Homo sapiens: one gene and its partner. The protein of the gene in region 1 binds, or shares a complex with, the protein of each later gene. Each region holds a gene or a part of one and is shown on either strand. Other genes may lie near its edges. The genes, in order: RGS2 and GNAI3. A codon is read from its position in the direction of its gene.

Region 1 (6,942 bases):
CACATAGTAAACACTTCACTGTTACTGAATCCTAAACTAAAACTACTATGTGGTAACATGGATCGATTTAGGGAAAGATGTACAACCAGCTACCTAAGGCCACATAATCCCAGATCTATTGATTTTAAATGCTTTTGGACCAACAGTATTACATTGTCTCTTTCATCATCTTACATTCCTGCTTTTCAGAGTGAGACACCACGTTCAGACCACCTATTCCCTTCTTGCGTTCTGTACACAGTGAGGGAAGCTGTTCTGATACCAGCTTCTCCTAGTCAGTTACTGGCTTCCTGATTCACTACCCAACTTTGAATCAATAGTTCTGAGTGATGTTTCCTGAACACCCAGGCTGAATTCAAGGTCAGTCTTTATGGCAGGTCACAGTCCTTCCCCTCAGGAAAAAGAATGAAATGTCCTCCATTTCTGGGCTCCCTTTTACATTTCATGTAGCATGAGGCTCTGTGGTGATTTGTGGCTTTTTACACAAGTCCTGGTAGAATTCTGACTCCAAGAAACGAGGATAAGAGTTGTTCTCCATCAAGCTGTATACCCTTTTCTGGGCAGTTGTAAAGCAGCCACTTGTAGCTTCTTGTATATTCTGGGCAATCAGAGTTTTGGTTTGAAAATCTATGTTTATCTGAAATAAAACAAAAAAGTTGTTTATTTGGTATTCAGAGTTAAAGATTAAAATTTAGTATTTGAAAACAAAAAATAAAAATTATGTGTGATTAGCTTTACTAGCTAAGTCACAGGAGAACTTTAACATAACTGAAAGCTACAACGTGGAGGGACTTTTTACCCCTCCTAGCCCGCTTTGTCCTTGATTACTTTGTTTCACTTTTGTGCTAAAGATGTCCAGATTGTGCTGAAATTAGGAACTTGTTTCCTTACCTCTTTTGGAGCTTCCTTTTCTATGAAGTCAGTATATATTTTCCTTGCTTTTGAGGACAGCTTTTGGGGTGATTTGGTTTTTTTGAAGTCTTCACAGGCCAGCCAGAATTCAATATTTTCTTCACAGAATTCCGACTTTAAAAAAGCCCTGAATGCAGCAAGACCATCTGAAGGGGGGAGAAAAGAGAGCATGCAGAATGTGAAGAACTGAGAGACCAAATGATTCCTTATGTTTCTCCTATCCCTCACATTTTAATTATTTCTAAATGAATTTTCTAGATTTCGCTCAAACCTGTAATTCTCAAAATTTAGCTTTTTAAAGACTAAGATACCAGTAGGCAAAAGGCTTATGTTGGCACTCTGCTGCAAAAATATAAGTACTTTGCTGTCAATGCAAAGTAAATATTTATAGGGGAGCCATAAATTCTCTGGGAACTAAGCCTCTTGAAAACATTGTATGCAATGGAAAAACTGACTCAACCTTAACTATAAGCAACTGCCACTTTAATTTGTTTAGGCTGATTTTCTTCCCCACCTGGAGAGAATATATGCATTTATTTGTTAAACCCTGGGAAATAAAGGAAAGAAAAACAGGCTTTATCCTATAGTGACTGCAGTCTAATCCCCCTCAGGCAAGCTGCTCTTTTGTTAGGTGGACGCAGCCTTTCCAGGCTTTTGCGATGTTAGCAATGGCTCAAGCTCAAGAGTTAACTTACATTTGCTGGCTAGCAGCTCGTCAAATGCTTCTGACCACAGCTGTGCTTCCTCAGGAGAAGGCCTGCAAGAGAGGTTCTGTATGTTAGCTTACGCACATCAGAGTTCCCCTTTTCAGTTCAGCAGCTAACTATTGATATTTGCAAGCACAGGATTCTCAACTTACTTGATGAAAGCTTGCTGTTTGCTTTTTTTGCCGGTTTTGGGCTTCCCAGGAGTAGAGGAATTTTGTAAGAAGTAGCTCAAACGGGTCTTCCAATCTTTTAAACTAAAACAAAAAATTAAAAAGATAATTACTAACTAGCAACACTTGAATATGCTACTGCAGCTGAACGCATTTTTACCAAATAAAGTCACCCAGTAACTAGAGACAAACCGCATAAGGCAAAGCAAGAACTCTTCAAATAAGTCTTATCCACCTAACATTTAAACCTCATGTACTGAGCAGTTTCGTCCATTAATCTGACCGTATCTACTAGTTTTACAACTAAGGGCAGGGCTACCTATAATCACTAGGGTATTTTAAAGAATTGTTAATGAATTTAGTTCAAAAGGCAGACACTATTTCTGGCTCACAAAGGGCATCAGTTTGTTTGCAAGGTTAATTACAATTCCGAGACGTTTTGCACTTTAATGAAAAGGACAGACATGGAACTGTCTGGAGCCGGCCCACGCTTCTCTCTTTAGAGCAGGAGGTTCTGGACCACGCCAGAGACTGTACAAAGAGGTGGGTGACTGATTCCCCTGCGCTCTTCCTTCCCCACCTACGACACTTCTTTTAAGCAGACGCTGCATAACAATTATTTGTTCCACATTCGGACTGGGTGAGATCTGCTCTATAATTAAAAAACAAAAATGGATTTTAAACGAGTATATTCAGAACCAGCAAGAGCATCACCTTCCAGTAGCTGTGTAAGCTGATGAGAACTCATCATGCAACGTATGAATGCTGGGGACGCGCTTCAGCCGCAGGATTCTGATGTCATTTTGAATGCAGGAGGACAAAAAGCCAACCCGCAATTTCTTAGCGCATCAACCACCGCCCTCATATCAACTGTCTCCCTCGGTTCTTAAACTGTACCCGAGCATCACCCAGATTTAACCTTACTTAACAAATTGACCTTTTCGATTTTTTTTCCCTGCATAGGCTCAGGCTAGTTTCCTAACGTCAAAGGCGAGCCCGAAAGTACCGCGTTTGCAGCTTGCAGTGTGGGGCAGGGGGTGGCGGGAGAGGGAAGAAAGCCATACTCACAGGGTCCGTTTCATCTTTTCTCGCTTCTCCTCGCTCTTGTGGCCACTGCCTGCGCTCTTGTCCATGGGTCTGCAGTCGTGTTGAACAGCCAAGAACATAGCACTTTGCATTATCGTTCTCCCGCTGGAGCCCCGGCTGTTTGCGGCTGGGCGTGCGTCGCAGCATTTATGAGGCCTCGGCTTGGGGGCGGGGCCTCGCGGCTCCGGCCCCGCCTCAAGAGGACGCGGATTGGTCGGCTGCAGACTGGCACGGGGATGGGTCAGCGCCCGCCGGCGGCAGTCACGGCTGCTGCCGAAGGGTCTCGAAGCCGGGGCGCTGCTGACGTCTGCGGCCCCGGCTTCTTGCGCACTCGGGCCACATAGCAGCGGCCAGCTGGGGCAGGTGTGGGAGCAGATGGAGAGTCTTCAGTGTGGGCCGCTGCGCACGACCTTTTGCTGAAGCGTGGCGGCCGGGCGGGCTCGAGGGCTTTGCGACGGAGGGAGGGAGCCGAAGTTGGCGGCGGCCCGGCGGGGGCGCCGGCGCTCCCTCACCCACCCTGACGGGCTCCCCAGCCCGAGGCCAGAGCGGCGATTCCCTGGCAGGAGGAGGTCGCCCGCCACGAGGCCGGAGTGCAGTGGCCTGATTTCGAATGAAGAGTGGGATTTTTCTTCCTTTTTTGAGCGCGTTCCCTGACCCCGCGCCTCATTTCTTGTTTGCTGTCCTGCTGTAGGACTCATTCGACACCCCCTGGTCTGTGAACTGAGGCAATGGGGAGACCCTCGCCCGTTTCTCTCTGCCACTTAACTTAAGGAAGGAGTAACCTGAAACGTTGATTGCCCAGGGGCAGGGTGGGATCTGCTCTGCAGCTTGCTGGGGCGTCTTGGAACACTTTGAGAATGAACATTAGGGATTGAACAAGAGAAAGTGACTTTATCAGAAGACAGTGCTTTAATTGGGTTTGCATTTTTGATCACTACTAGGCACGTGGCTGGGTCTGTCTATAGGGTCATTCCTCAGGAGTCCTTGGTCACATCTCCTGCCAAAATAGAAATCACAGATTTCCTTATGGTGGGAGAGAAAGCTGCAGACATAGAGATTTCATAGCTGTAATGCACCAGAATCAGTGAGTTCAAGGAGTCAGGATTTCCTCATGAGTCATTCTTGTTGAGTTAGGATTTACCAGAACATTTAATAACTGGCAAAAAGTAGGGGGGAGAATGAGTTAACAGTTTCCTTGATTAAGTTTTATTTGTTAATTCTTCAAGTATCATCTCTACTCCTGAAGGTTTTAAAACGACTTGATTGGTAAAGACAAATAGATTACCTCAACCACAAAATGAGTTGATTTCGGATAATATTACCAGAACTAGCCAGTGAAATGTTTAAGCGGCTTTGCAACCAAGCTGCAGATATTCTCTCTACTTTGTATTCGACTTCTTAAAAGGAAATTGGAAATAATTAATATATTCTTACGGTGAGCTGCCAGTAGTTGGAGCTCCAAGTTTGACTTGGAGGGCAAAACCTGCAGTTATTATTTAAGACAACAGTTGTGGACTTTATTGTGGAAAGGAAAATCGTGTAGATTTCAGTAATAGATACTTTGAAACATGCTTGTTAACTCTAGGAATGCCATTTTTTCTTAAGCATATGCTCTTCCTCTCCTATGCTTTGCATAATAGTCCTACATCTATTTTCACTTTCTGATGACTCAATACGTATTTATCAGCTGTCTGTAATACGCAGACACTTGCTTTTTCTCACCACTGTAAACCTCAATATATTTTATACTTAGAACCTTAGATGTTAGAATTTACTCATAGACAGTTAAATTCGCTGGCAGGCCAGGAGTTCTGACAAAGAGGCAGCAGAGAGAGAGAGCTGGACTTCTGTCAGGAGACCCAGTTAGAGCCTGGGCTTATCCAGTAAATGCTAAGTAACTGTTGGGACACTAGCTTCACACCTCTTTGAGTCCCAGTTTCTCATCTGTAATAAGAGTAACATGTATTTTCTTGCCAGCCTCATAGGATATTATGTGACTCTTACATGAAAGGTCTTTTCTAAGCTCTAAAGTACTGTACGGAAGTTTATTACTGATTTGCATATGTGTGGCAAAAGGAAATGTTCAAATCATAGCTGTTCAAGATGGAAAAAATCGTACGAGGATTAACTCAGACGTAATTAGGTTATAAATATGTAGGTACTATTAAATATCAAGATGTTTCAATTTGTAGGTACACAAATACACAAGATACACAAATTTGTAGAAGATTAAGCTCATTATAGATATTTAATAAATGCTCACTGGATAATACGTAGGAAAAATAAGGAAACTGATTAACATTTAAACTTTTCAGGCTGGGTATTGTGGTTCATGCTGGAAATCCCAGCACTTTGGGAGGCTGAGGCAGGTGGAAGGCTTGAGCTCAGAAGTTCGAGGTTCAAGCATTCAAGTTACAGTGAGCTATGATTGTGCCATTGCACTCCAACCTGAGTGATAGAGTGAGACCCTGTCTCTTAAAATAATAATAATAATTAATTACACTTTTCAGATATCTCCAAGCCAAGGAAGTTTAATCATCTCAATATATTAATGAAAGTGAATATACATGTACCTGCATAAGCAACTGGTTTAAATATAGATTATTCTTGATGTTTTTGTGTTTAATATAATTCTTTGCTTTTTTCATAAACCCTTCCAGATCAGTGACTGATGTTAGGTGGCAGAAAATTAATTTTTCTCTGAAAATTATGTGGTTGGTTAATAAATCTGGATATAAATCAACTTGTAATTTTTGTATCTATATGTAATTTTAAGAGTTAAGGCAGTACCTGCTATAGAAACCTTTTCCTCAAAAACTTGCCATGTTAATGTCTTTTAAAAGACAGGCCAATATATGTATATTTACATATACATGTAATATATGTGACATGAATATATACATCATATATTTCACGCATATATGTAATATGTATTACATGTATATTTACATATGCATTACATATATTTACGTATATATAGGTAAAACAAAAGCTGGAATCTTTGATGACTTCCCTTTTTGTTGTTGCAACTGGCTTTTAGGTAAACAGAATTGCTCCACATAAAGATGACACATATTTTCCATCCTGTGGTAGAGGAAGAAACAATGCAGTGGGTTGTAAAAGTTGCACAACAAAACCTCAGTTTGAGAGTGGCTGATAACCTAACCATACATTTTCTGTGTTGAACCTACCATGCCCTCTACTGGAGAGATTGATTGAACAGATTAGTGGTGGAGGTTTTCCAGATAATTTATGAACTTTCTATATTTTTTTAAAAGTTTATAGAAGAAGGCAAAGAAAAAATACAAGTTTCTTGCATAATGTATCTGAGATTCTTGTATTATATATCTTGCGTGTCTTAAATTATGAAGAGTAAAAATTTCCCCTGTCATACTTCTCCCTTCTGCTCCCACTCTATGCTAACCATTATTAATAAAAGTTATTAATTCCTATTCCTATTAACTAAAAATATTTATATAAAATAACTCACCTACTTAAGCTTTAGAAATGTGAAAGCCATTGGATGCTGTGGCTCACGCTTGTAATCACAGCAGTTTGGAAGGCCAAGGAAGGAGGCTTGCTTGGGCCCAGGAGTTCAAGACCAGCTTTGGCAGCATAGCTAGACCCCGTCTGTACAAAAATATATTAAAAAAAAATTACCTACGCATGGTGGCATGCACCTGTAGCCCCGTCTACTCAGTCAGTTGAAGTGGGAGGATTGCTTGAGCCCAGGGACTTTGAGGCTACAGTGAGCCATGATGGTGCCACGGCCCTCTAGCCTGGGTGACAGAGGGAGACCCTGCCTCTTAAAAAAAAAAAATAAATTAAAAATAAAGAAATAAATAAATAAAAATAGGAAATTTAGGAACCAAGATACTTGCTTTTAAAAACACAAAAGTATCATTCTATGTATTATTCTGTGCTTTGCTTTTTTCAGTTAGTAAGATATTTTAGTTTCCAAATTTCTAAGAGCTGTAAACCTATCGTTTACCTTATGAAATGTTAAATAGGTGGGTTAGTTAAAAAAAAAAAAGGAAAAAATCAGGAAGTTACATGCTATATGGTGA
Region 2 (12,966 bases), about 83 Mb from region 1:
GAACTTAAGGGAGAACCTTGGGCACAGTTACAGGGTTTAAATTCAGATACTCTGGAATACAGCAGGCATTAGATGCAGGAGAGCCACTGACTTCATATGATACCTACTGAAAACCAAAGGTGGAAAGACACCTCTCCTCAATTTCTTTTCAACTAAAGTGAGAAACACTGGAGTGCAATAGAGAATCTTCCCTCCAAAAATAGGCCCCCAACTGCTGTTGTCTAATAACATTTCAAGGATCAAGTCAATCACCTAAAGTGAGTCAGCAACTAACAAGGGTTCATTTATTCTACTTTTTCACTATTTTTCTGGAAAACCAGGTAACAACTCCTATGATGATGCGGGGAATTACATAAAGAGCCAGTTCCTTGACCTCAATATGCGAAAAGATGTCAAAGAAATCTACAGTCACATGACCTGTGCTACAGATACACAGAATGTCAAATTTGTGTTTGATGCAGTTACAGATATTATCATCAAAGAAAACCTCAAGGACTGCGGCCTCTTCTAATCCTCACCATTCCTCAGGTATAAGTTCTATAAACAGGCTTGGAATCTGGGTAATTAAAAACAGAAAATTATAGTCAATATACCATGACATGAAGAATGAATCCATTCTTTGGAGATGGAGTATACATGACTGCAACTGTATTTCATACGTTCTTTTCAAAGTGGGATAGCTATTGCAGCTTAAAGAGCACAGGCCAGTAGTTAGAAGACCCCCCAGGTTCCAGTACTGGTTTTCCAACTTAATACAAAACTGTGAATACTTTATTTCTGAGTCTTGAGTCTTTCAACTATAAAATGAAGATGACTTCCCTACCTACTTTACAGGGTTATTCTGAGGAGCACGAACATAACTGAAGGGAAGGCACATAAAAACTGCTTGTGCAGGCCAGGCACAGTGGCTCACGCTTGTAATCCCAGCACTTTGGGAGGCCAAGGTGGGCAGATCACGAGATCAGGAATTTGAGACCAGCCTGGCCAACACAGTGAAACCCTGTCTCTACCAAAAATACAAAAATTAGCTGGGCATGGTGGCAGGCGCCTGTAATCCCAGCTGCTCGGGAGGCTGAGGCAAGAGAATTGCTTGAACCCGGGAGGCAGAGGTTGTAGTGAGCCAAGATCACGCCACTGCACTCTAACCTGGGCAACAGAACTGTCTCAAAAAAAAAAAAAAAAAAAAAAAAGCCTGCTTGTGCTTAGGGTCACAGAAATAAATCCTATATAAAAATATAAAAGCTGCCATATATTAAATTCAACACCTGGTTTTTAGAATAAACTATTGCAACAAACTATTCCAAGCAAAATAGCAAGGCTTCCTATAGTCTGTAAAAAACTAGTATTAACCAAACCTAAATAAACCTGCCATTCCCTTTTTACTAACAGACCTCTATGTGCCTTAGCTCAGAGATCTGGATCACTGGATAGGAGATGCGAGTTTGTTAGTTTCTAAGGCACATCCCAAAACGATCATCTTTATTAAGCAAACATTATCCCTCTGCCCCCAGGCTATCAAACAGACCTTTATCTCTACAAATGTTTCTTAGCTACATAAGATACTTCCTGAATAAACTTAGAGGACATCAAATACTCTCATTTAGAGTATTAATGAATGTATTGCTGCCGCCTCTCTATCATAGAATTTGGAACAAGTGAACAATTCTAAACTTTTCAACTGCTACGTGTTTCAGAAGAACCAAGACAGGTGAGCTTGTTTTAGGCACTGAAAATCTTTGCAGTTGGGTCCATGTGATGGTGGATGAAAACATCTCCCCAAACACGCCAAGAAGTTTTCCTTTGAACTCCTTTGAGGGGAAATGAAGTTTGCATTTATCTTGACAGAAGGGGATGAAGTTAAGTATATAGATTTAGCATTTACAACTACCAGTGAGGAAAGCTCTTGGCATCCAAGATTTAGTACATAGAAGAAAATGTCAATTAAAATGGAAATTGCTCCTTGCCAGAAACACCCACTCACACTTAGGCTGCTACTAGCAATATTAATACTAGAGAGCCATATGAGCTTGAAATACACTTAAGAATAAATTTGTAGCTATAAAAGTTAAACTCATTTAATAGTCTTTCTGATTCCCTAAAAAGAAAGCAGCTTGGGAGAATTATCCGAGAAACTACTCTGGCTACTGCTGATGAAAAAACTCAAGCCAAAGAACAAACCTGGCTGGGCACGGTGGCTCACACCTGTAATCCTAGCACTTTGGGAGGCCAAGGCAGGTGGATCACCTGAGGTCAGGGGTTTGAGACCAGCCTGGCTAACAGGGCAAAACCCCGTCTCTACTAAAAATACAAAAATTAGCCAGGCGTTGTGGTGCCTGCCTGTAATCCCAGCTATTCAGGAGGCTGAGGCAGGAGAATCACCTGAACCCAGGAGGCGTTTGCAGTGAGCCAAGATCATGCCACTGCACTTCCAGCCTGGGCGACAGTGAGATTCCATCTCAAAACAAAACAAAACAAAACAAAAAACCTGGGAAAGACTTCTCATATTCAAGAGCTGTTCAGGAACTACTCTGAATATCATGCTCCAACCATTACTAATCTGTTCACTTTAACTCAACATACAGGAGTTCTGAATCTGTTTTGTATCATGGATCCTTCCGGCAATCTGATGAAACCATGTGCCTCTTTTCATCATCATATTTTTAAACACGTAAAATTAAATTCAGAGAAATACAAAGAAAACTAGCATATCAAATAGTCTCTCTGTAGACTCGCTGGAGCTCTGAAGCCCCAGGTTAAGAACCCTTACTATACAAGCTATGATCTTGTCTATTCAGGCCCCAAACATAATTTATCCCATTTATTCCATCTCCAAATAGGATAGCCCTACTTTCCCTCAAATAGTACCAGATTGTTGATTATTTTATTAACTTTTCCTTGGTCTTTCAATCTAGGTATAAATTGGTTATTGACCAAACTATAAGTCTAACTCAGGATCCTTGGTTATTAATGTTCACACAGAACCTGCCTTATAGTACTAGTACAGAAGCAGAGCCAGTGGGACAGGTCTTCTGACAGGTCTTAGGTCAGAACACAAGTCTCTAGCAGACTAAAACATGGTTGTATTTAGTCCTCTTCTTTTGGGATAGCTGGGGGATATCCCAACTTTTAACTGGTTTATCAACAAACTCACACAAGCCACCTTGTACAAACATTATGTAAAGTGTTCATCTTGGAGGATAGAGCAACATTCTATAGCTGTTTTTTTACTGAGTTTGGGATCTGCCTATATTCATCTTATGATGTTTTCAAGCTAAAACTCTTCTGGCAAGTCTACATGAAATGCAACAGGGGCCCTTGAGCACCCATTCACCTATTACCTTAGAACACAGTCAGAATAATTTTCTCAAACCCTTGGTCCAGAATGGGCTCTCCCATGATTAAAGGTAAGAGGACTTCACCTCGATGCTCTTGATAGGCTTCCAGAAAAGGCATTCACCCTTACCCTAGCTCAACTGTTTGTCAGGCCCAACGATTGTTCCCAAACCTTACATGTTAGAGCTGCAGAAAAAGTGCATTTGTACTTTTCCTGCACAATTAGCTTATTTTTATCTCATGGACATTTTGATTGTATTCATGAAAAGTTCTTATATAAAACAGCTATAAGAAAGATTAAAATAAAAATTAAGTCATTATCTTTCTTTTGCCTCATTTTAAATTTACACCGTACTGTTGAATTTTTATTTACTTTAAGCCATCAAGTTTTTTTTTTTTTTGTAACCAGATCAGAAACAAATATTTAACCCTATTTTCTGGCATGCAACCTTAATTCTTAAGACTGCTAAAGTTAGAACAAACTTAAAAATAGTCCAGCCCCATCACTAGCAATTTATAGATCAAAAACTGAAGCCCAGGAAGGAAGAGTATCTTCATCAAGATCACAACGCTAGGCAGTAGCAGAACTAGAACTCCAGAACAGGTCTTCTCAATCCAAAGCCTGTGATGATGTCCAGCTACCAACAGAGCACCATACACTATAAAATCAAAGCCAATTTCTTGTTCTTCTAAGCTCCTCCCATTCCCAACCAAATTCTTGGTCATTTTTTCATTATGCCGTCTCTAAATCGTGGACATTTAACAAAACCACCTCCAAGCTAAGACAAATAGATCTCAAAATAGAATATGAAAACAGCATAAAATCACAAAAATATAACTAAGTTTGCTTGTTTGTTGAAGGTAAAATTTCCTCTTCATATTCTTAGAGGGAGAGACCATAATGTACTTCCCTAGCATAGCATGATTAAAGAGACATTACTAACAGTAAATCAAATGTAAATTACGTTACATTTCACATAAATCTGATAGTTTTCCTTTTTTAGACAAAAATACAATATGATTGACACAAAAGGACAAATACTATGATTCCACTTATATGAGGTATCTAAAATAGTCAAATTCATAGAGACAAAGGAAAATGCTGGTTACCAGGGGCTGAAAGAAGGTGGGGCATGGGGAGTTACTGTTTAACAGGTACAGAGTTTCAGTTCAGGAAGATGAAAACAAGTTCTGGAAATGGATGGTGGTGATGGCTGTGCAACAGTGTGAATGTACTTAATGCCACTGAACTGTACACTTAAGATGGCAAATTTTGTTATATATGCTTTATCACAATTTTAAAAATAGAAAAAATATACTATAATTAGAAATTTGTATTTCTGTGGATAAAAGGAAGAATGGATAAAAGCGGCACAAAAGTTGTCTTAAAAGCAACATAAAAGACACATTAACTTGAAACAGTTCCTACTCTGGTAATAAAATCCACTCACATGTACCTCCAAATAGTCCAAAACAGAGTATTCCTTCCCATCCCCACGGTGAGACATAACAGCATTCAAAACCCACTCTATACTTGGAGATGTGCCGTAGACCAAAGTGTGCCGGCCATGCTGGGTGGAGAAGGTGGTGAAGGGTGAAGAGCTCTTACCTCCCACTGCCCTCTCTACCCGGCACAGCCCCCAGAGCACAGATTCCAGAAGGATTTCGGTGTTGGGCCAGGGACTGCAAGTGTGACAGAGCCTCTGGTGGTCCTGCTAGGTAAAAGCATGAAAACATTTCTGTGAGGTCAGAAGACACTGGAGACTGCAGAAGGGAACTTTTCTGTCTTTTTGCCATGAAAAAGCACTAGTATAAGCAGAAAATAGACAGCTGGATTTAAATGTAAAACAAAGCAAAGACCTTTTCACCCTGCTTCACGAATTTTAGAGCAATTTATAGTTCAACTTCATTTCAGGTCTTCAAAATGAATATGGGCAAAGTAATGCTGTAAAAGACCACCCACTACGTTGAATACCTTTGTTGGTGCTGCCTTAGGATTTTTTTTTTTCTGTGCAGTATAATCCTGAGTATCATAACATTTACAAAGCATTTTCAAATATGTTATTTCTATCTGATGAGAACCACAGAATATCACAGCAGGAAGGAATAATTTAGTCCATCTTTAGATAACAGATGAGTGATTTAAGACTGAAAGAATACACAAGATTCCATAGCTGGTTGGAAGCAGAGACAAGACCAGAACCCAGCATTCCAAACAACTCTCCAACCTCGTAAGATTCTGAGAGGTCTCAGGACCTTTATCCTACATGAGCAAGAATAAACAGAACAGGTGATTTCTTGTGTTTTGTTGTATCTACTGGAAATCTCTCTTACATATAAATAAGCATCTTAGTAAAAATGTCTGGATAACCTAAGGAGAATTTTGGGCGTAGGGAGAGGTAAAAGATAAGAGGAGACAGATAAACCAGGTTGTTCATAATTTAATATTCCTGCTGTCACAGATTTTATAGCTTAGTGAATGCTGGTACACTGAGATACTTCTATCCCAGCAGTGTATTAATATTTATTATTTGATTATTTCTGGTACCTTGTGATTCTCACTAGATTTCAGGAAAACACTAGCACTGGGCATACAAAGGCTTTTACATGTGACTCAATCATTCCCCTTATATACCCCCGTACCCATTTCAAAACGACTTTCATTCTAGTTTAGAGCTAGCTAGCTTTGCTTTCTCTACCAAGTGTAAATAAATATTCATGTTATTACATATACTGTTATCTGTCACAGGGTTTTATCTTTAATTTGGTGTATCTTTCAATTTTCACTGCATAAATAAATGCAGTAAAATAAATGAAATGAATGTTTGGACATCCTAGGTTTCTTGTTGTCTTAATTTTGTATAAAACTAAATACTCTGTATCCAAAGTGTAGGAATGTTATGTGACCCAACAGTTTTCAATAATTTTCTTGGTGGAAGGCACTTTAAGTCATGTACAAATGGTACTTCTTATTGGCAAAAAATAGATCACTCACTAGTGATTTTGAGCTTATTTGTGCACTGAAGTTGCTTATTTTCAATATTTGTGTTGACTTTAAAAAAAAACAAAAAAAAAACAGACTCACTCTGTCGCCCAGGCTGGAATTCAGTGGTGCGATCTCGGCTCACTGCAACCTCTGCCTCCCAGGTTCAAGCGATTCTCCTGCCTCAGCCTCCCGAGTAGCTAGGATTACAGGCATCCACCACCATGCCTGGCTAATTTTTGTATTTTTAGTAAAGACGGGGTTTCACCATGTTGGCCAAGCTGGTCTCAAACTCCTGACCTCAAGTGATCTGCTTACCTCGGCCTCCCAAAGTGCTGGGATTACAGACATGAGCCACTGTGCTCAGCCTGTGTTGATCTTTAATATAGATTGAGCATTTCAAATCTGAAAATCCAAAATCTAAAATGCTCCAAAATCAAAAGCTTTTTGGGTAACAACATAACACTCAAAGGAAGCACACACTGGGGCATTTTGGATTTCAGATTTTTGGATTTGGAATCCCGAACCAATAAGTATATAATGCAAATATTTCAAAACCTCACAAAAATCTGAACTCTCAAACACTTCTGGTCCCAAGAGATTTGGATAAGGGCTATTCAACCTGTATTAGGTCCTACTCAGTTGTCCCCAAATGTTGGCCCAGATTGGCTACATCAAAATCACCTAAGGAATGTATTAAAAACATGTATATTCCCATGACCTGGCTCAGACATTTTAATTTACTAGGGTTTAGCCAAAGAATCTGCTAAATCAAATTAACCATGTACCCCAGGTAACTACTGCTGTTTAACATTCCTTCTTACCTCTTATTCCTGAGAAGATTTGAGTCAGCCCAGGCCTAGGCCTGATATGGTATCAGAAAAAAAACTGCCCTGAGTGGGTGGAGTGGTTCACATCTGTAATCTCAGCACTTTGGGAGGCCAAGGCAGGCAAATCACTTGAGGTCAGGAGTTTGAGACCAGCCTGGCTAACATGGTGAAACCCTGTCTCTACTAGAAATACAAAAGTTAGCCAGATGTGGTGGCACATGCCTGTAATCACAGCTACTTGGGAGGCTGAGGCACAAGAATCGCTTGAACCTAAGAGGCAAAGGTTGCAGTGAGCAGAGATCGTGCCACTGTACTCCAGCCTGGGCAACAGAGCAAGACTGTCTCAAAAAAAGAAAAAAGAAAAACAAGAAAAAACTGCCCTATCCTGACATGTTCTGAAGTATGTTGTTCTCAGCAGAACTAACTCATAAATGTTGAGAAAACTGGGGGGAAAGGAGGGAGAGAAATGATCTTAAAAACTAAAAGATAAAGGCATAAAGACCTTGATCATCATTAAAGTTAGTTCTCCAGTGCCTGAAAAAGGCTTTCTTTTACTCCCTGATAGTTGTCAGCAAAATCAACTTTCAACTTGAGGTCTCTAGGAAGCCTGCCTTTTTCTCTTGTGCTTGTTGGGAGCAATACAACAAAATATGATGATCATAAAGCTATGTAAAGAGCTGAGGCTGATCCAGGTCAGATCCCTGATTTGCACTACGAAGCCTAAAGTAGAACACAATAATTACCTGGCACTGGCAAACTAAGATCATTGCTCTTAAAATCAGTATTACACATGAAAAGGAAAGAACCCACAAGTACTAACGCTCAAGGAAAACAGTGACGTTTTAGGTTTATACAAATGAGTAGAGGGTTGCTTATTTTTTTTTTTTTGAACATGTAAAAAGGGAAAATAATCAATGGTAGCTTTTTAATAGGAACAAGAGACTGACTTTACCTTATATATGACTGCAATACAGCAAGGAGTTCTGCAACAGGAAATTCCAGAACTATGTCACACATGCTAAGCAAATGAATAAATTATATTAAGTAACTAATCAGGCCAGGCAAGTAATGTCCAAAGAATGTCACAGCTATAAATGAGAGAATAATGAGCAGAATATAAGAATATAGGGTGAATGAATGAATTACAAAAACCAGCTGTTATTTTAAAATAGTCTAATGTGTATATACAACAAATAGAATATATATGAAAATTAAAAAAACAAGGCAAGAAGTTTTTTTTAAAATTTTGGTCCATCTAGTCTTACATTGTAAGAATGTAGTACCTTGTGAAAAATAACGATCCATCAGTAAAAATTTAAAAAACGATTCACTGTGAACTAGAGATTTAGAATTCAAACTGTCCAAGATGAAAATGTCATCTCAAGATCCACTTATGAGTAATTGTTAAAGTTTTTGGAATTTTCATGCTAGGAGGTGAAATCTGTTGCAAAGCTGAATTTATAAGGTTAGGGGGGACTGTCCATTAAGAATACTTCTTCTTTACACAGAGACTAATGGCTTCTTTGATGGTCCAAAGCATAGGCACCTGAATTCTGAAACATTATCCATCACAAATCTCCAGCATTCTTCAGAGGAAACACACAAGGCAACTTTCAGCTTCTTTGATTACAAATGCCAAAGTTTTTTTTCAGGCTAGTAGATTTAATGTTTCATCCCACATTTTAGCCCTGCTACAAGAAAATATCTTTTATTTCAATACAAACCAGTGATTTGCAAGCCTGGCTGGTAATCAGAATCACCTTTTAAAAATTATAAATTGCCAGCCAGGTGCGGTGGCTCACGCCTGTAATCCCAGCACTTTGGGAGGCTGAGGCAGGCAGATCACGAGGTCAGGGGATCAAGACCATCCTGGCTAACACGGTTAAACCCCGTCTCTACTAAGACATACAAAAAAATTAGCTGGGCGTGGTGGCAGGAACCTGGTAGTCCCAGCAGGAGAATAGCATGAACCCGGGAGGCAGAGCTTGCAATAAGCCGAGATCGCGCCACTGCACTCCAGCCTGGGCGACAGAGCGAGACTCCGTCTCAAAAAAAAAAAAAAAAAAAAAAAATCGATTGCCAGCCCACCAGCCAAAAGTCAATCCCTTAGATGGGTCCAAGTGATTTTTACTTAAGTCATATTAAAAACTACTGACTTAAATTGTCTCCCTGTGTCCTCAAGGAATGTGCATTTAGATAAGTTATTTGGGATGGTGAAATAAGAGTGATCTTCATGTTAACAAACAGAGAGCAAATGTAAATGGTACAGAGGCAGAAAAATGGGGACCTGCTATTTTTCTTTAACAGAAGGGCTAAAAATTTAACATATCAGATAGATATTCAAATGAAAATACAAATTCAAAGTAAAATGAACTTTTTTGGATTATTGGTTATTTTAGATTATCAACAACACCATTTCATTAGTCCACAGTATAGAAAGACTACAGTTGAAAATAATATTCCACCAGGTCTCATTTCCAGGATCCTATATTACAGAATACAATAAGGAAAAGGTATATTCAAAATGAGTAACAACTACCAACCCTGTTTACATTGTGGGCACTGAATCAATCGCCAATTGAAGCTGATAATTTTCTTTCAGATCAAGTTTTCCCACACCTAAAGAAAATTCCATTATATAATACAGTTATACCATCTGTAAGCTATGATTTTCCAAAAAGAATCACAAAAAAAGTTAAAAACTACCAACAAAGGCACTGAACTGCTATGACTTGCTTTTTTTGTTGACCACCAACCTTTTTTTTGTAAACTAGTGAAAAGTCACATCAAAAGATGAAATAGAATCCAATCCAAAAAGATTGGACCCCAAAAGGCACTGCCCAAACTACTGATTTGAAATGCTCAAAATGCATTCTCTTCATTTGTCTTCCCCCAATAGAGCATTCAATATTTAATGACATTTGCTGTACATTATACAAAAGGGTCTGTAGGTTGAAGTGAACGTAACTTTCCACACAAGCAAAATGTAAATCTGCAAAATGAATCATGATCACATATCACTCATATGCAGATATAACATAAAACCTAAGGTTCAACAATACTATTACACCAAAAGACTAGACTTTCAGGAAACCCTTCTACCTAAACCCATTCTCAGACAAAGGCTAAAGCACATTCTGCAAAGGCAAAAGGAAACAGAAGACAGTATTTCCAGAAAAGACTAGTTACAAACAGGAGCAAACCTGGGCTCTTTACTCACCATTTTAATACTGCCGCCAACTATAACAGATTAAAAATGTACACATGACAAAGTGGAAAAAAGTCCCAAAATGCAACAGTTTCAGCAAAAGAACATACTGGCTAAGGATTACTACAGTTAACATCGGTACAGTAAAAACGATGGCAAACAGGGATTTGGCACCACATTTACAAAGTAAAAGCATGCACTGTTAATACACTTTAGATGTTTCTCAACAGAAAAGGCCATGAAGATGGAAAACAAGAGGCACCATGTACAAAACTCCCTATAACTGAGACAAACAAGCAAGAATCAAAGTGGTCAATTTAGTAAATATGTAGCAGCAAAGTCACTGGTTCTGTTTGGAATTTAGCAATTTGCATTTCTGATTGGCAGCTGCCCTGGGTGTGTCTGTATCCAAGAAGCTGACTTTATCATACTACATCAGCAGTAATTTGGTAATCTGCACAAACAAGGTTAACCTTCAACCATAAGCTTAAAGAAAAGAGAGAACTAGAATCTTATTGCAGAACTTTCCAATGTAATTACCATATGGAAACCATAATGGTACTTTGAGCAGGATAATAACATAAATTTCATTTAAAAAGTTGTATTTATAGCCCCAGTAACCGGAAAGAATTATAAGTAATTATGGAAGTATTATATTCTGACCATACCAAGAGTTAAAAACAAAGAGTTCCTACTAAAGAGGAATATTTTCAAGATGATCTGGTCACATCATGTGCATAGTTAAGATTGTTTGTTTTAATAAAGATTCTTTTGCAAATAAAGAAATAAAATTTAGTAAAGTTATTCTTCTCTTGATGAAAAAACCTTAAAAATGAACCACTGGTGGTTTAAGAAGGGGGGAAAAAAAGAGTAAGCTACATATTGAAGTTCTAGAATGCAGCACCTCAACTTCACATCTTCCATAAGCATTTAAGATTAAGAAATCCAAGTGATGTCTTGACGATCGAATCACACTTTATAGTTCTTCCAATTCCAATGTCTGACTTTAGCATCTCATGTCAATTAAAAGTTCCCTAATACAAAATATTGTGCTAAAGAGTGCTAAGATTCTGCATGCTGCTGCCATTCCCTGGTCCCGTTCATGCTTGTAGCTGCCCCATGAGACAGCAAAAGGTGTCTGGTCTCAACACTCCACACTGTAGTAACTAGAAGAGAAGAATATTCTTAATTAGAAAAAGTTTAAAAACCAAGAGACATCACTGTAGCACTATAACTACCTTGTATGAAACTTTACCTTTCACTAACATCCATGCTTCTCAATAAAGTCCACATTCCTTTAAGTTGTTTTTAATGATGACATCTGTAACAGCATCAAAAACAAACTGCACATTCTTCGTGTCTGTGGCACAGGTGAAGTGAGTATAGATCTCCTTGGTATCTTTTCTTCTGTTCAGATCTTCAAACTGGCATTGAATATAGGCAGCTGCCTCTTCATATGTATTGGAACCTAAAACGGACACCCAGTACTCTCAGTTCAAATTGTAACAGCTGCCTGAACTCAACTAAGTCAGACCATTACCATTTACTTATGGAGAGGGAACATAACCCAATTAAATATGAGTAGAATTCTCTATTTCTATAATCATTAGGTGTTTCTATAATTAGGTTCTTCGTGAGAGTGGACTCTCATGGTAACAAAATAAAATCATCAAACACAAAGATTGAGGAAAACATAACGTTAAATTTCTCTTTACCTTTTCATTTAGACTTTTCAGCTAAAAAAATCTAGAAAGTATAAAAGGAAACTAGGAAAGTAGGAAGGTGCATTTCTAGGGAACACAACTGCTTAAAAGGTCTGAGAGAGGCTGTGTTCCTTGGAGTGATCTTGGAATAAAAATTCAACAGGGTAGTGCTTGCTTTGGTAGCACATGTACTAAAATTGGAACAATACAGAGAAGATTAGCACAGTCCCCGCGCAAGGATGACACGCAAATTCGTGAAGCGTTCCATATTTTTTAAAACAACTGGGTCGGATCATGCTAAAAGGAGATAATATTACTCTGCTACAAAGTGTCTCCAACTAGAAAGGATCAATGAAGTGAGAAATTGTTGAGAAGGATACAGTTTGCTTTTAGATGTCCTTTTTCCAATATGAACATTCATTCATAGTGTTTTGATTACCCTTATGTTACTAAAAGATGGCAATAAACGCTATGGGATTGTTTGTATTAAAACAAAAAAAAAAGGAATTCAACAAGGTAAATTGTTCTTTTCAAAATCATTCCACAGTTTTAAAGAGGTTTAGCTTCAAAGCCTTAAGGTAATAATTTAAATAAGGAAAAGCAATACACTTTAAAAGAGTGAATTTTAGGGTTTCCCAATTATATCTCAATGAAGCTATTATTTTTTACAAAAAGAAAGGTGACAGGAACCAAAAGCAAAGCCTGTCTCAACAATATTTGTAATTAATACCCTTAAATCACCTGCTTTTTACACCATCTTGTCTACTTATAGAACCTTTAGAGTAGCCTTAGAAACTGGCTATAAAGCCAGGGAAACGCAACAAAGACAATTCATTATTCCAATAAACTACAGGCTATTTTCAGTAACGTGAAGCATAACAAAAATATCAATAACAAAGATATAAAGAA

What was found.
Region 2: the proteins of RGS2 (region 1) and GNAI3 are in contact, whole or in part, in a crystal structure (PDB 2V4Z), measured with the Homo sapiens proteins. Residues at the interface, in NP_002914.1 of Homo sapiens: Glu104 (codon at 1,023), Phe105 (codon at 1,020), Glu108 (codon at 1,011), Asn109 (codon at 1,008), Glu143 (codon at 906), Ala144 (codon at 903), Pro145 (codon at 900), Glu147 (codon at 894), Ile148 (codon at 637), Asn149 (codon at 634), Asp151 (codon at 628), Phe152 (codon at 625), Leu180 (codon at 541), Asn183 (codon at 532), Ser185 (codon at 526), Arg188 (codon at 517); in NP_006487.1 of Homo sapiens: Val179, Lys180, Thr181, Thr182, Gly183, Ile184, Val185, Gln204, Ser206, Glu207, Lys209, Lys210, His213, Ala235, Glu236, Asp237, Glu238.

Annotation. Positions count from the first base shown.
Region 1 is NC_000001.11:192,805,097-192,812,038, reverse strand, and holds the start of RGS2 (regulator of G-protein signaling 2), read right to left. Parts: upstream 3,001-6,942; 5' UTR 2,968-3,000; coding exon 2,858-2,967; intron 1,874-2,857; coding exon 1,772-1,873; intron 1,670-1,771; coding exon 1,608-1,669; intron 1,059-1,607; coding exon 892-1,058; intron 638-891; coding exon 443-637; 3' UTR 1-442. UniProt on the Homo sapiens protein: Regulates G protein-coupled receptor signaling cascades. Inhibits signal transduction by increasing the GTPase activity of G protein alpha subunits, thereby driving them into their inactive GDP-bound form.
Region 2 is NC_000001.11:109,590,899-109,603,864, reverse strand, and holds the end of GNAI3 (guanine nucleotide-binding protein G(i) subunit alpha-3), read right to left. Parts: intron 11,823-12,966; coding exon 11,632-11,822; 3' UTR 11,610-11,631; intron 11,521-11,609; 3' UTR 3,670-11,520; downstream 1-3,669. Other genes in the region: GNAT2 (guanine nucleotide-binding protein G(t) subunit alpha-2), read left to right, coding at 321-511. UniProt on the Homo sapiens protein: Heterotrimeric guanine nucleotide-binding proteins (G proteins) function as transducers downstream of G protein-coupled receptors (GPCRs) in numerous signaling cascades.